2 linked regions of the Homo sapiens genome follow. The protein of the gene in region 1 purifies or fractionates together with the protein of each later gene. This does not show direct contact. Each region holds a gene or a part of one and is shown on either strand. Other genes may lie near its edges.

What was found.
Region 2: the proteins of GSTA2 (region 1) and ATG4C purify together in Homo sapiens (affinity purification with mass spectrometry; 2 studies listed by BioGRID and IntAct, with this or other methods). This does not show direct contact.

The regions. Positions count from the first base shown.
Region 1 is NC_000006.12:52,749,427-52,753,609, forward strand, and holds the end of GSTA2 (glutathione S-transferase A2), read right to left. Parts: intron 3,570-4,183; coding exon 3,428-3,569; intron 2,283-3,427; coding exon 2,151-2,282; intron 1,274-2,150; coding exon 1,151-1,273; 3' UTR 661-1,150; downstream 1-660. UniProt on the Homo sapiens protein: Catalyzes the conjugation of glutathione to a large variety of electrophilic compounds.
Region 2 is NC_000001.11:62,779,129-62,787,355, reverse strand, and holds the start of ATG4C (cysteine protease ATG4C), read right to left. Parts: upstream 3,225-8,227; 5' UTR 3,083-3,224; intron 1-3,082. UniProt on the Homo sapiens protein: Cysteine protease that plays a key role in autophagy by mediating both proteolytic activation and delipidation of ATG8 family proteins.

The sequences.
Region 1 (4,183 bases):
AGGCAGGAAGGCAAGAGGCCTCACCATGTTCAGAGAGTTGACTGGGCTGAAGATCAAGGAGTGAGGACAGGTGTGAGGATGGATTTTATATGCAGTCAGGATTCCCTGAAGAATTCTGTGATTTTTTTTTTCCAATTTGCATTTTAGAAAAACTACTCTGGTTGTAAGTGGAGAAGAGACTAGAGCAAAGTGAAGCTGCAGGTAGGAAGCCTGTGTGTCTGTCTGCTCCCTCAACCACCTCTGCCAACTTGGGGAAGCTCCCTCTAAGAGGAGGAGAGCTCAAATTGCAGAAGCCCAGGTGTCCTGGGAGAGATTAGCATTACAGGACCAGTATGGGGGTGGAGCTAGAAAGCACTCCTAATCTAAGCACTCTGGCACAGTGACACACCAGGGAAAAATGATTTTGCATATAGTTATTTGTATGTAATTCACATATACCATCTGTATCTTGGCAGCCCAGGTCTGAGTGGCACTGAGGGAACTGAGAGAAGGCTTATGCCTGGGACCCCATGGAGGCTTAAGGAGCAGAGTGAGGATAAGCCAGGACCACATGCACTGTAAGAGACAACAAGGTGGCCTGAGAGCAGAGGGTGGGTCTGTTTGCTCTTCAATATTTCCTCACCTCCTAGAAAACGGAGGAATCCACAGCAGACAGAATCGTTGTTTTGCAAATGCATTAGAAAGAATGCTTTTATCAGAAATAAAATGACTGTTCAGGAAAAGAAGAAAATGTCTTTATGCCATTATCCAGGATGGTAACTCTTCTCCTGTGCATACCTGAAAATGTCAGAGGTGCATTTTTACATTGGCATTTTAATAGATTGTATGACAAATTGTATGTTACAGGGCAATTCTTGGAAAAGTCAAACAAACCACATAATTTATAGTTTCCATTTTTACTGAATTTGTAATTCCAAGAAAATTGTTGGCTAGGAGGAGATTGGAAAACTGAATTCACATCAGATCCTAATGAGAAGAAATCAATTTTAACTAAGTGGGTGAATAGGAGTTGTATTATTTAATTAGCATATAATTTGAAAGAGTTCATTAGCTTCACAACAGGCACAATCAACACTTAGGTAAAGCACTTAATTGTTGCAAAACTTTAGAATACTGGTCTTGCATGTTCTTGACCTCTATGGCTGGTTTATTAAAACCTGAAAATCTTCCTTGATTCTTCTAAAGATTTCTCATCCATGGGAGGCTTCCTTGGGCTGCCAGGCTGTAGAAACTTCTTCACTGTGGGCAGGTTACTGATTCTGGTTTTCAGGGCCTGTAATCCACAAAGCACAGCCTCACTAAAACAACAAGTCAAGGGCTGACACCCCCATTAACATGACCCAGGGAATCTGAGTCCCTCCTGCCAAAGACCAAGTGAGTCGCTTCCACTTGGGTGAAGGCAGAAACAGACACCCAGTGAGAAAGGAAGATAAGAGGAAGAACATGTAGCTCACTTTATTTTCCCCAAAGATGTCTTGAAATTTTAATCAGTTCAGTCATCCCTATCTTTCTTCTTACATATTAATCCTATAGATTAGTGACTCTTGTATAAGACAAGAAAAACTAATGTGCTTGTTTGATATCAGCACAGATCAGTCTCTAAGCAGAAGTGAAAATATGGGAAAATGAGTTGGAAAGGAAAATGTTATAGAAAATAGTAAAGACAAACCATGGGACCACCTTTTCTCAGTGAGAGATACATTGTCGGGGGCAGAGTGCTGGAGAGCTGGGCAGAGAGGAACAAAATGTCTGACAGCAGGAGCCGGAGCCCAGGGAGGAAACCAGATGGAAAGGGCTCTGCTCAGACTGACTCAATGTGGGCACATATGGGATAAAGGACATCACAGAGAACTCAGGAACAGAAACCACACTGAAATAGAGGGATGGGGAGACATGCTGGGCCCTGGGTCCTTTCCATAATAAAAGGCAAAATACTCTTTGCGGGGTAGCATGCACTACAAATTTCCTTTCCATAACAAAAGTGTTTTCATTCCTCAAAATTGGAGCCTGGAAGCTCATTTTGGAGACCTTGGGGCACCAAAGGCCTGGAGAAGGCTGGGGTCAAAACATGCTCAGTCCCAGGGCCCAGATACAAGATCCCAAGATGGGAGATGTGGGTCTGCCTCTCTGAAGACTGTGAAATGGGTCACCTTCAGCAGAGGGAAGCTGGAAATAAGGCTAGAGTCAAGCTCTTCCACGTAGTAGAGAAGTTCCACCAGGTGAATGTCAGCCCGGCTCAGCTTGTTGCCAACAAGGTAGTCTTGTCCGTGGCTCTTTAAGACCTGGAGAATGGGAGGAATCAGATCAGGAACACATGCCCACCCAGGCTGGGACCCCTGCTTCTTTCAGAGCCTCTCCACCCTGACTTTCCCCACCTCTGTTGCCTTACTGCATGGATGCAGAAATCCCGAGCTTTCTCCACATTATCTGAATGAATGAGATAGTAAGAAGTGTAACTGTACTCACTCCTCAGTTGGAGCTCAGCCTCCCATTTTCTCTTCTCATCCACATCACTGTGGCGTCTACACTACCCACCCAGCTTGCTTCTTCCACATGGGCCAAGGGCTTAGCACCTGCCGCCGCATGTTCTGTCTGCCCCAGGCCCTGCAGTGTGGAGCCCTCACATTCAGGATGTGGCTCTACATTCTGCTGTCTCCCGCTCCAATCTCCCTTGGGCAGTGACTCCACCATCGTGACAACACTCTTCCCCCAGAAGGAGACTATTTCAGAGTCCTCATTTCTCCTTGTCTGTTCTCCTCATTCCCTGCTCTATCTCCCTGAGATCTGTAGGAAACCTGGGTGAACCTGAATTCATCATCTTTTTTACAGCATCGACTCTGGTTCCTAAATGGCACTATGTTATAATCTGCAAGCTGAAGCGTTTAGGAGTGAACTGCTCTGATGTCTGCAACTTACTATAAAATGCATTTTACAGAATCTTCCTCTGCATCCCACAGTCACTCTCCTTTTAAAAAATACTGATCCCTGAAACACTGCAATATTCTCTGGTTGGGCAATTGGTCTCCTGTCTTCCTGCATATGGTGCCAGAATGTTTTCTGATGGATCACTTTCATCATGCCCCTGTTCAAAGTCCATGGGGTTCCATAGACTGAACAGCAACTCTAGTGTGGTCCAGAGCCTTCCACAGCCCACATTCTACTTATGAACACAAAATTCTGTTGAACAGATAATTCCATATTGGGGTTCAGTAAATTAAAATTTTACTGGAAGATTATAGCTTGGGTATAAGTGATACAATTGTTTCTCCAAGTCTATTTTCATAAAATGCCTTGAGAGTCAGAGTGCTGCATTGGTGTCCAGGAAGTATCACTGAAAGTGAAGATCAGTGCCCCAGGAATGCCCAGCCACTATTTTTCTACTGGCTTCTAAACTCAGTTCCCCAAAACACTGAACAGCTTCACTTACTTTTTCAAAGGCAGGGAAGTAGCGATTTTTTGTTTTCTCTTGGATCAAGGCAAGCTTGGCATCTTGTTCCTCAGGTTGACTAAAGGGCAGAAGAAGGATCATTTCACCCAAATCTGCTATACCTTCTATATACATATCAATCCTGAAAGACAAAAACAACCAAATGGTCAAATATCTTTTGCCTTAGATTTTATAGGTTTATAAAAACCTAAGAGAGTAGAGTATCAGGTGATGGCAAAATAATTCACCTCCAATGAGTGCCTTTTATAGTCTAGTCATTATGCTCTGAGTTTTACAGGTATATAGTCATTATGCTCTGAGTTTTACAGGTATATTAACATTTATTTCTTAAAACAGCCTATCAAGGTAGATAGCTCTCTAAATTTTGTTACACGCATGACCTAATACAGGAAGAAGATCATCGGTGGTCACAGTCATGAGAGAAATTGGTGGAATCACTGCCAGTACCCACTGATGCTGTGCCAGGATTTATCATCTCCATTGTGGTTTGTTCTGTGCATGAACTTAGTGTGAGTCAAATGGCCAAAGACCTGCTTCCTAAGTAATCCTAAGAGAGTCCCTGGCACAGCCATCTCAGCCATATTCCTTGTCCTCTCTCATCATTTTACAGCTCCCAGGGCTGCTTCTATGCCCCATATTTGCAGTTCTTCCAATTACACCCATGAAAAACGTTTCCACAGCCCTCTCCATGTGCTGTTGCCCAACTCTAGCCATGTGTGCCTTTCTTAAGAGCCA
Region 2 (8,227 bases), on another chromosome or scaffold:
ACATGGTTTAATATATTACAGATAGATTCAAAACAGAGACCAACATATTTCCAGATGCTTTCATGTAGAACCCCACCCCTGCTCAATCAAGAAAAAATGATACCAAAAAAACCTATTTTAGGCATAGTATTACTCAAATATACAAAACTACAACAATGACACAAAAGGGTAAAAATAACTAAGAAATTAACCTTAAACACTGCTACCACAACAAAAAATACTAATAAACAAAGCATGTTTCCCAAACCTGGTCCTCTTTCGATGTTCTCTACCTCGGTGAAGGGTGCAACAATCCTTCCAGTTATATAAGCCAAAAACCTAAGATTAGCCCATGATATCTTCCTCTCCCTCACCTTCCATATCTAATCCATCGCCTAGTTCCACCTCCTGAACACCTCTGGAATCCATCTTACCACCACCACCTTGTCCAAAATACCATCTCTCAATTGGGCCACTCCAACAATCTTCTAACTGGCCTCTCCCCATCCCCACTCTTATCCCCTCTGTAATCAGTTCTTCCTCTGTGTAACATCAAGTCCTTTTTTAATAGCATTTACCACAGTTGTAACTTTAAATTTCTTTGACTATTTGATTTATGTCTGCCTCCTCTGTTAGTAAATTCTATGAGGGTAAACACCGTATTTACTCACTACTATACCACTGTGGCCTAGAAGAGTGTCTAGTTAATAAATAAATGCTAAATGATTGAATGCATGTCAAATATTACAATTTTACTTATATATAGTCCAAAAAATAAAAATAAAGTGCTTTATAAGGCTCACCAATTATTCTATATCACAGATTTTCACTTGTTTTTTTTTTTTTTGAGACAGGGTCCTAATTTCTACCTACCAATCCCTAACCACTATTTAAATTCCACATTAGATCTCATCTTCATGAAACATTCCCTAGTTATCTCTCTTCTCACCTTTAACATTCTAAAACACTCCCGTAAAATCTAATACATATTGACTATATTTTCTGCTTCTTGAAGGGAAAGTTTACATCTCATACATTCTGCTAGAGTATAAGCTCCCTAAGAGCAGGGACTTTTCTTGTTCACTCTATATCCCCAGCACCTTGAAGAGTGTCTGGTATGAATAGCTGCTCAGTAAGCATATGTTGATTTAACGCTCTTTATATATTTCAGGATAGAGCACAGATCCTTGCAGCTGTTGTACAGTGGGAAGAGTCGAAAAGAACTGAATTAATTTCCTTAAATTCTTCAAGCTTCAGTTTTTTCATCTGTTAAATGTAAATAATACTCAATAGCTTAGTTGGAATAACTGCGCTAATGCTTTAAAAGTATCTATGCAGAGCTGAGGACAAGAGGATACTCTTACAAACAAATGTTTTGGTGATTTTGTGACAATAGTTAAATAGTAAGTAGTCACTAAATTCCTACTAAATGAATAAAATCTCAGGAAAAATATTAAAAGATTGAGTAATGGCTACCGTATCATTTTTTTCAATAAAAAATTATATGAGTAAATTTATTCTGAAATATATTTCGCCCCAAATCTTAAGCATGGCTGAAACCATTTCAGCATTTTGTGCATTAATTAGGAATAATCCCAATTTAACATTGTACCAGTATTAATATTTATATTTTACTGACATGTATAGATCATACTTGATAGCTTAAAAAAGAATGATAATCTTAGTATAAGAACCTCTTTAGTGCAATAATTGGAATAGAAAACGAGCTGCAAACTCATTTGAGTTACGTGGTTCCCCAGAAAGCCAGAAAATTTCTGCCTTTTTATAAAACATTAGTGAACAGAATACGATGCTGTTCACCAGAACCATCAAAACATCTAGAAATACTTCATAACCAATCACCATAAATACATTTTTCCAAATACTTGAATCCTATTTTAAAGAAAAAGAGCATTAATTAAATGGCTTTTAATGACTTTTTGCTAAATTATACAATTCTTTAGATGGGCCACTTTTTGACATGTGGTTCTAAAAATTTTATAGCGAATGAACTGGTAATTCAATATAGCCTCAGATTATTGGACTAAATAGAAACTCTTCCTGTTCAAAGAAGAAGCTTTATCAATTTGAAACTCAGAAAATACATAGACTTTACCTTTCAAAGCCTTTCCACTCCCTCTGGGTATTCTCAATGGCTCATAATCTAATTACAAGTCACAAGCAAGCAAGAAGATCATTCCCTTGTCTCTTTCTGCCATCAACTGACACAAAATCATTGCCAAAAACCCACCGGGGACATATGGTCCGAGCAGGAAAACATAAGAAAACTCCTAAGTAATTCGGATATAAAAAGATGTAAGACGAGGTATTCTTCTGTAACTATAGGGTAGCAGTGAGCCCCATGTGGGTAAATAACCAATACAAAACGAAAAGGTAAGCCAAAGAAATCACAAGAAATATAAACTCAATAAGCAGTGATGCTGAGTTGACCGCTGAAGGTTCTCATATATGAATATAGTCATCATATGTAAGAATTTATTCTACACCTCCAACCTCAAAAGCCCTTAGATGTGGGTAGGGTTGGGAGAGTTCACGGTGAGCGGGAACCAAATGAAGTGAATGAACGTTAATATTTAGATGGAAAGGCATTAATATATGCAAGGCAGTGTGTTATGGCTTGAAGCAGTAACAAACACCAAAAAGGGAGAAAGAGGCTAGGAATGAGAACAGAGAGACAGTGGGGATCCAGTTATTATTATTATTTCCCTTTTTTTATTTTTTAAACGAGGAAAAACAGGGCCGACAGAGCACTGGCATGAGGAGGGGTCAAATGGATGCGATAGATCAGGGGAAAGAGTCTTGCCTGCAACATCTAAGAAAACCACAAGGAAAGGAGGAACAGCTGCCCACAGTTAGGCTTACGGTTTATCTCTGCAACCCAGGACAAAGCGAGGAAGAGTTAGAAGACAAATGACACTAGAAAGGAGAGACAAGGAAGGCGCCAAAACCCTCAGAGAACCCAGATGGTTGGCCACAGGGTCTTCACTGAAGGCGGACCCCCGCAAGAAACCCAGTCATTCGGGGACCAGAGACGCTAAGTCCCAAACTTCTTGACTCCTTTAGCCTCAAGCCGATCCCTCACCGAAAGAGAAGGACTGGAGAACTGTAAAAATGTGCAGGAGCCACCAACCCGGCAAATGCTCCAGCTCTAGCAGCAGCCGCCACAAAACCAGCCCGCACACACGCAGACGTTCCGACCTCAGCGCCGCAGCTACAGGTACTTTGAGCACCCCGGCCACCGTAGTAAGAGGAACCGCCTCCGCGTCAAATCCAACAGATCAGCCACTTCCGGGATACGAAAGCCTTGCGATTGGCAGTAGCGATAGCAGCGGCGTAAAGGCCTCTGCTATGCTTACTTTATCCATCCCTTTTTCCCACCTGTTCGCCACCCCAAGCCGCTAATCCACCAATGCAGCAAGCGCAGAACCAAGAGAAAGTATCCGTCTGTGAGCATTGTCTCTCTGATAGACAAACCACATTACGGCTGCCATAAATTCCTCTCGAGCACTTGGACTTCAACTACCAGCAGGCCATGCAGCATCACGCCCTTGCCTCTGGCGTAGGAACTGCAAGATCCAGCATGCATTGCGGCCCTCCTTCCTCGCACTCAGGACCAAGATAGAGCCAACCCAAGCCTCACTTTGATTTAAAAAAAAAAAAAAAAAAAAAGCCAGGATGCCTTCTTTTCCTGTTGTGAAGGAACTCTAAGCCAAGCCATTATTAGGACTGTAGGTTATTTATAAAACATCAAGGGATATGTGCACTCATTTTCCATATTCAGATTATTTTCAAGCATTAAAACACAGGACAGTCGGGCGCGGTGGTTCGCGTCTGTAATCCCAGCACTTTGGGAGGCCGAGGCGGGTGGATCGCTTGAGGTTGGGAGTTCGAGACCAACCTGGCCAACATGGTGAAAGCCCGTCTCTGTTAAAAAATTAAAAAATTAGCCGGGCGTGGCGGCGGGCGCCTGTAATTCCAGCTACTCGGGAGCCTGAGGCAGGAGAATTGCTTGAACCCGGGAGGCAAAGGTTGCAGTGAGCAGAGATCGCGCCACTGCACTCCAGCCTGGGCGACAGAGCGAGGCTTTGTGGGGAAAAAAAAAAAAAAAAGAAGGAAAAGAAAAAGAAAGAAAGAAAAAAGGACGGTCCGAAGATGCTTTTTATAACGTGGAAATTTTTGGCCAGGCGCGGCGGCTGACGCCTGTAATCCCAGCATTTTGGGAGGCCGAGGCGGGCGGATCACTTGAGCCCAGGAGTTCCAGACCAGCCTGGCCAACATGGTGAAATCCCGTCTCTACTAAAAATATAAAAAATTAGCCGGGTGCGGTGGCGCGCGCCTGTAGTCCCAACTACTCAGGAGGCTGAGGCGGGAGAATCGCTTGAACTCGGGAGGCGGAGTTTTCAGTGAGCCAAGATTGTGCCTCTGCACTCCAGCCTGGGCGACAGAGCAAGACCCTGTCTCAAAAAAGTAAAAATAAATAAATAAATAAATAAATAAGTGGAAATTTTTATCTTCACTCCTAAATGATGTCAAGAGAAATACTGTTACTGTAAAATGTAATCCTATGCCGTTTTACAGTACCGCAGATTTTGTTGGAGCAAGGACTACCAGACATGCTTCTGAATTACATAGGAAATTATACTAAAAACTAAAAATAAAATATGAAGTCTATGCCACCGGACTATGAAACCACATGGGAATGAAAACCTTCAAGAATGAAGAGTTGAAAAGTTCAAAATTAAACTTGAAATTTTTTCAATTTTTTAGTGGATTTGGTGGTTTAAATTTTTTTTTATTCTCACAGAAACAGGTAGCTGGATCTATTTATTTTTTATTCATGTACTTGGACAGCTAAATAACAAAACAACAAACAAAGGATATGATAAGATCACAAATGGCACACTTATTAGAGTGAGCAAAGTAGTTTTCTTGCATGATTCCATAGCTTGTGGTTTCCTGTTTCGAAATCCCCAAACTCTGTTTTGATTTTTTTTAGGAGAGAGAGCATGCATCTAACAAGCTGTTTAGATGCCTTTTTGTAACTTTCATAAAGACCTGGATTACAAGAATGCATGTATTTTATTTTTGGTATTGTGCATTAACAGGCCATGAGAAACAATGCTTGGATTCTTAAAATAACTATATATACAAAAGTAAATTGTGTGTATACTACAGACTTGGGTTTTCTGTAGATTTGCCACAACAAATTTTAATTGGTTAGAAAAAAAGGAGTAGAGTACCTTTCCTTTTTACAACTTCACACAGAAATCACAGGAGGAAACTATATTCTGCAACACTGACATGGCATCAGCTGTCATACAAACTGCTTTCCAACTCTAGTGCGTTAAATTATGCAGCGCTAGCAAGTAAATATTTAAAATCTATGATCATGGAAAATAATCTGCTGTTTTCCATGCTCATGCACCAAAACAATATGAATGCAGTGAGAGAGGACATTTCCATTGGAATGATTCAAAGGTAATGTTGATAAACTATAATTAGGTTATCTGATATTCATAGGTGTTTGCCGTAAATAAACACAAAATTGCATCCACTTATTAGTGATGTTATTAAGGAAGCTTTAAAAATATGCTAAATATTTGATACACATATTTCTAAAGTCGTTTCCATGATCAATTGTGTAAATGAACATGGGAGTTTAAAGAGTACATAATTTATGTAATAGACTTTATGTTTTTTGAAGAGATTCTTACAGCTGCAGCACTCAGACAGAACATTCTCTCCTCTAAATGTGTCTTCACATTCCAATTCAGCCAATTGCCAACCATGCAAGAGTTAAAACTGAAGAAGCTGTTCGTTTTAGTTCAACAAAAATAGGATGAGTGCTACTAAGGGCAAGGCTCTCTGTCTGGGCACTATAAGCTGTTTATGAAACACTGATAGTTTTGGAAATTAGTTAAGATTTAAAGGGAAATTAAAAGCATACATGAGCTTTATCAGAATAGAAAACAAAGTAAATATGTGTAACACTGACTTTTAATAATCATCACACATTTGGTTAATTGAAACTTATAATAGCTAATATACCTTCTTAAAGGCAGGATCCGCATCTTAAACATCTGTGCCCCTCCCAGCTCTATGCACAGTACTTTGTGCAGAGTAACTGGCTCTCAATGAGTGTTTGTGGAAGTTCACAGTGATGACTAGGCTGGGTGCAGTAGCTCATGCCTGTAACCTCAGTACTTTGGGAGTCCAAGGCGGGTGGATCACTTGAGATCAGGAGTTCAAGACCAGCCTGGACAACATGGTGAAACTCCGTCTCTACTAAAAATACAAGAAAAATTAGCCAGGCGTGGTGGCGTGCGCCTGTAGTCCCAGCTACTCGGGAGACTGAGGCAGGGGAATTGCTTGAACCCGGGAGGCAGAGGTTGCAGTGATCCAAGATTACACCACTGCACTCCAGCCTGGGCGACAGAGCATGACTCTGTCTCAAAAAAAAAAAAAATTCACAGTGATGACCGAGGCCCCGAAACTGCCTTTTCATGAATACTGCGTAGTTTTAATGTAAGCTGTTTCTAACTCTTGTGCTTTATTTTTTTAATTAGTAATTCAGGTTGTATAATAAAATAACTATTAAAACCAGAATAATCAGAATGTCACATTCAATAATCATGAAAGCAACAATTTACATACACACACACACACACACACTGCTTAGTATATGTGTGTGCGTACTTGTGTATACGTGTGTGTGTGTGTGTACTTATATATAAAAAACACATTTATAATATATAGGTAACATTTATCTTAAGAGTCAAGCCCTTTCTAAAATGTCATCGTATTCCAGGCATATACTTTGAAAGTATACCAACCATTCTAATAGCATTGATTGTGAGGCAGCTCCAGATTTTTGTTAGGACACTTTTACTTCTTAACTTCTATCAAGTGTATTTCTTATCCATCTCCTTCCTGGACCAGGAAAAGATGAAGATTCTATTAAATAAATGTATACCATGAATGATTCATTGGGAATGTTATGTTAAGCGACATTGAACTCAGCCTGGATGGAATGAATACCTTGTAGACTTCTAAAGGCTAAAAAATTATTTTAAAGAACCCGGGAGGCGGAGCTTGCAGTGAGCCGAGATCGCGCCACTGCACTCCAGCCTGGGTGACAGAGTGAGACTCCATCTCAAACAAAAAAAATTAGAAAAAAGAAAACTTGGTGAAAACCTTTCCTCTTTTCCAAGTAATCTTATTTCTATCCCCTCTCTTATATCTTCAACCTCTTTCTCTCTCTCTCAACTATGCTCCCTTTACTTCAACAAACAAATGTGCACAGAATCACCATAATTGTGAAAGCACCTTCAGTGGACTCAGCTTTCCTGCTAAATGCAGTCACTCCCAATGCCCAGGCTAGAGTGCAGTGGTACGATCACAGCTCACTGCAGCCTCGACTTTCCAGGCTCAGGTGATTCTCCCACCTCAGCCTCCTGAGTAGCTGGGACTACAGGTACATGCCACCAAATCCGGCTAACTTTTTGAATTTTTTTGTAGAGATGGGGTTTCCCCACATTGGCCAGGCTGGTCTCAAACTGCTGGGCTCAAGAGATCCTCCCACCTCAGCCTCCCAAAGTGCTGGGATTACAGGCGTGAGCCACTGCACTCGGTCTGGTCTATTCTATCTTCTCTTTTTCCTTTCATAACCACACTTCATCAAGTGCTACAAAGTAAACCTTAGCCTTGACATGCAGCATGGGATCTCTTCACAGCAGCTAGTATTTACTGAACACCCACACCTATGCTGGAAATATAGACAGAATTCAGTAAGGAGCTTATGGTCCCTCAATACAATGTGATAAATGTTATGCTAAAAGTAAGGACAAGACTTTAAGAGAATGAAGAAGGTCAGTTACTCTCAAATTGAGTGAGGACCCTAGAGGAGGAAGTTCCCAAGATGATTTAAATGACAAAAATAAGAATTAACTAGCTGTAGAAGAGGGAGGTTCAGCCAGTTTAAGACAACCTGTAAATTCATTATAGCTGGAACAAGAGAGTGGGGTGAATAGTATGATATAAGGCTGGAAAGACAAACTGGAGCTATTTCACAAAAAGACTTTGTAGACCAGGCGTGGTGGCTCACGCCCGTAATCCCAGCACTTTGGGAGGCCAAGGTGGGTGGATCACCTGAGGTCAGGAGTTCGAGACCAGCCTGGCCAACATGGTGAAACCCCATCTCTGCTAAAAATACAAAAATTAGCCAGGT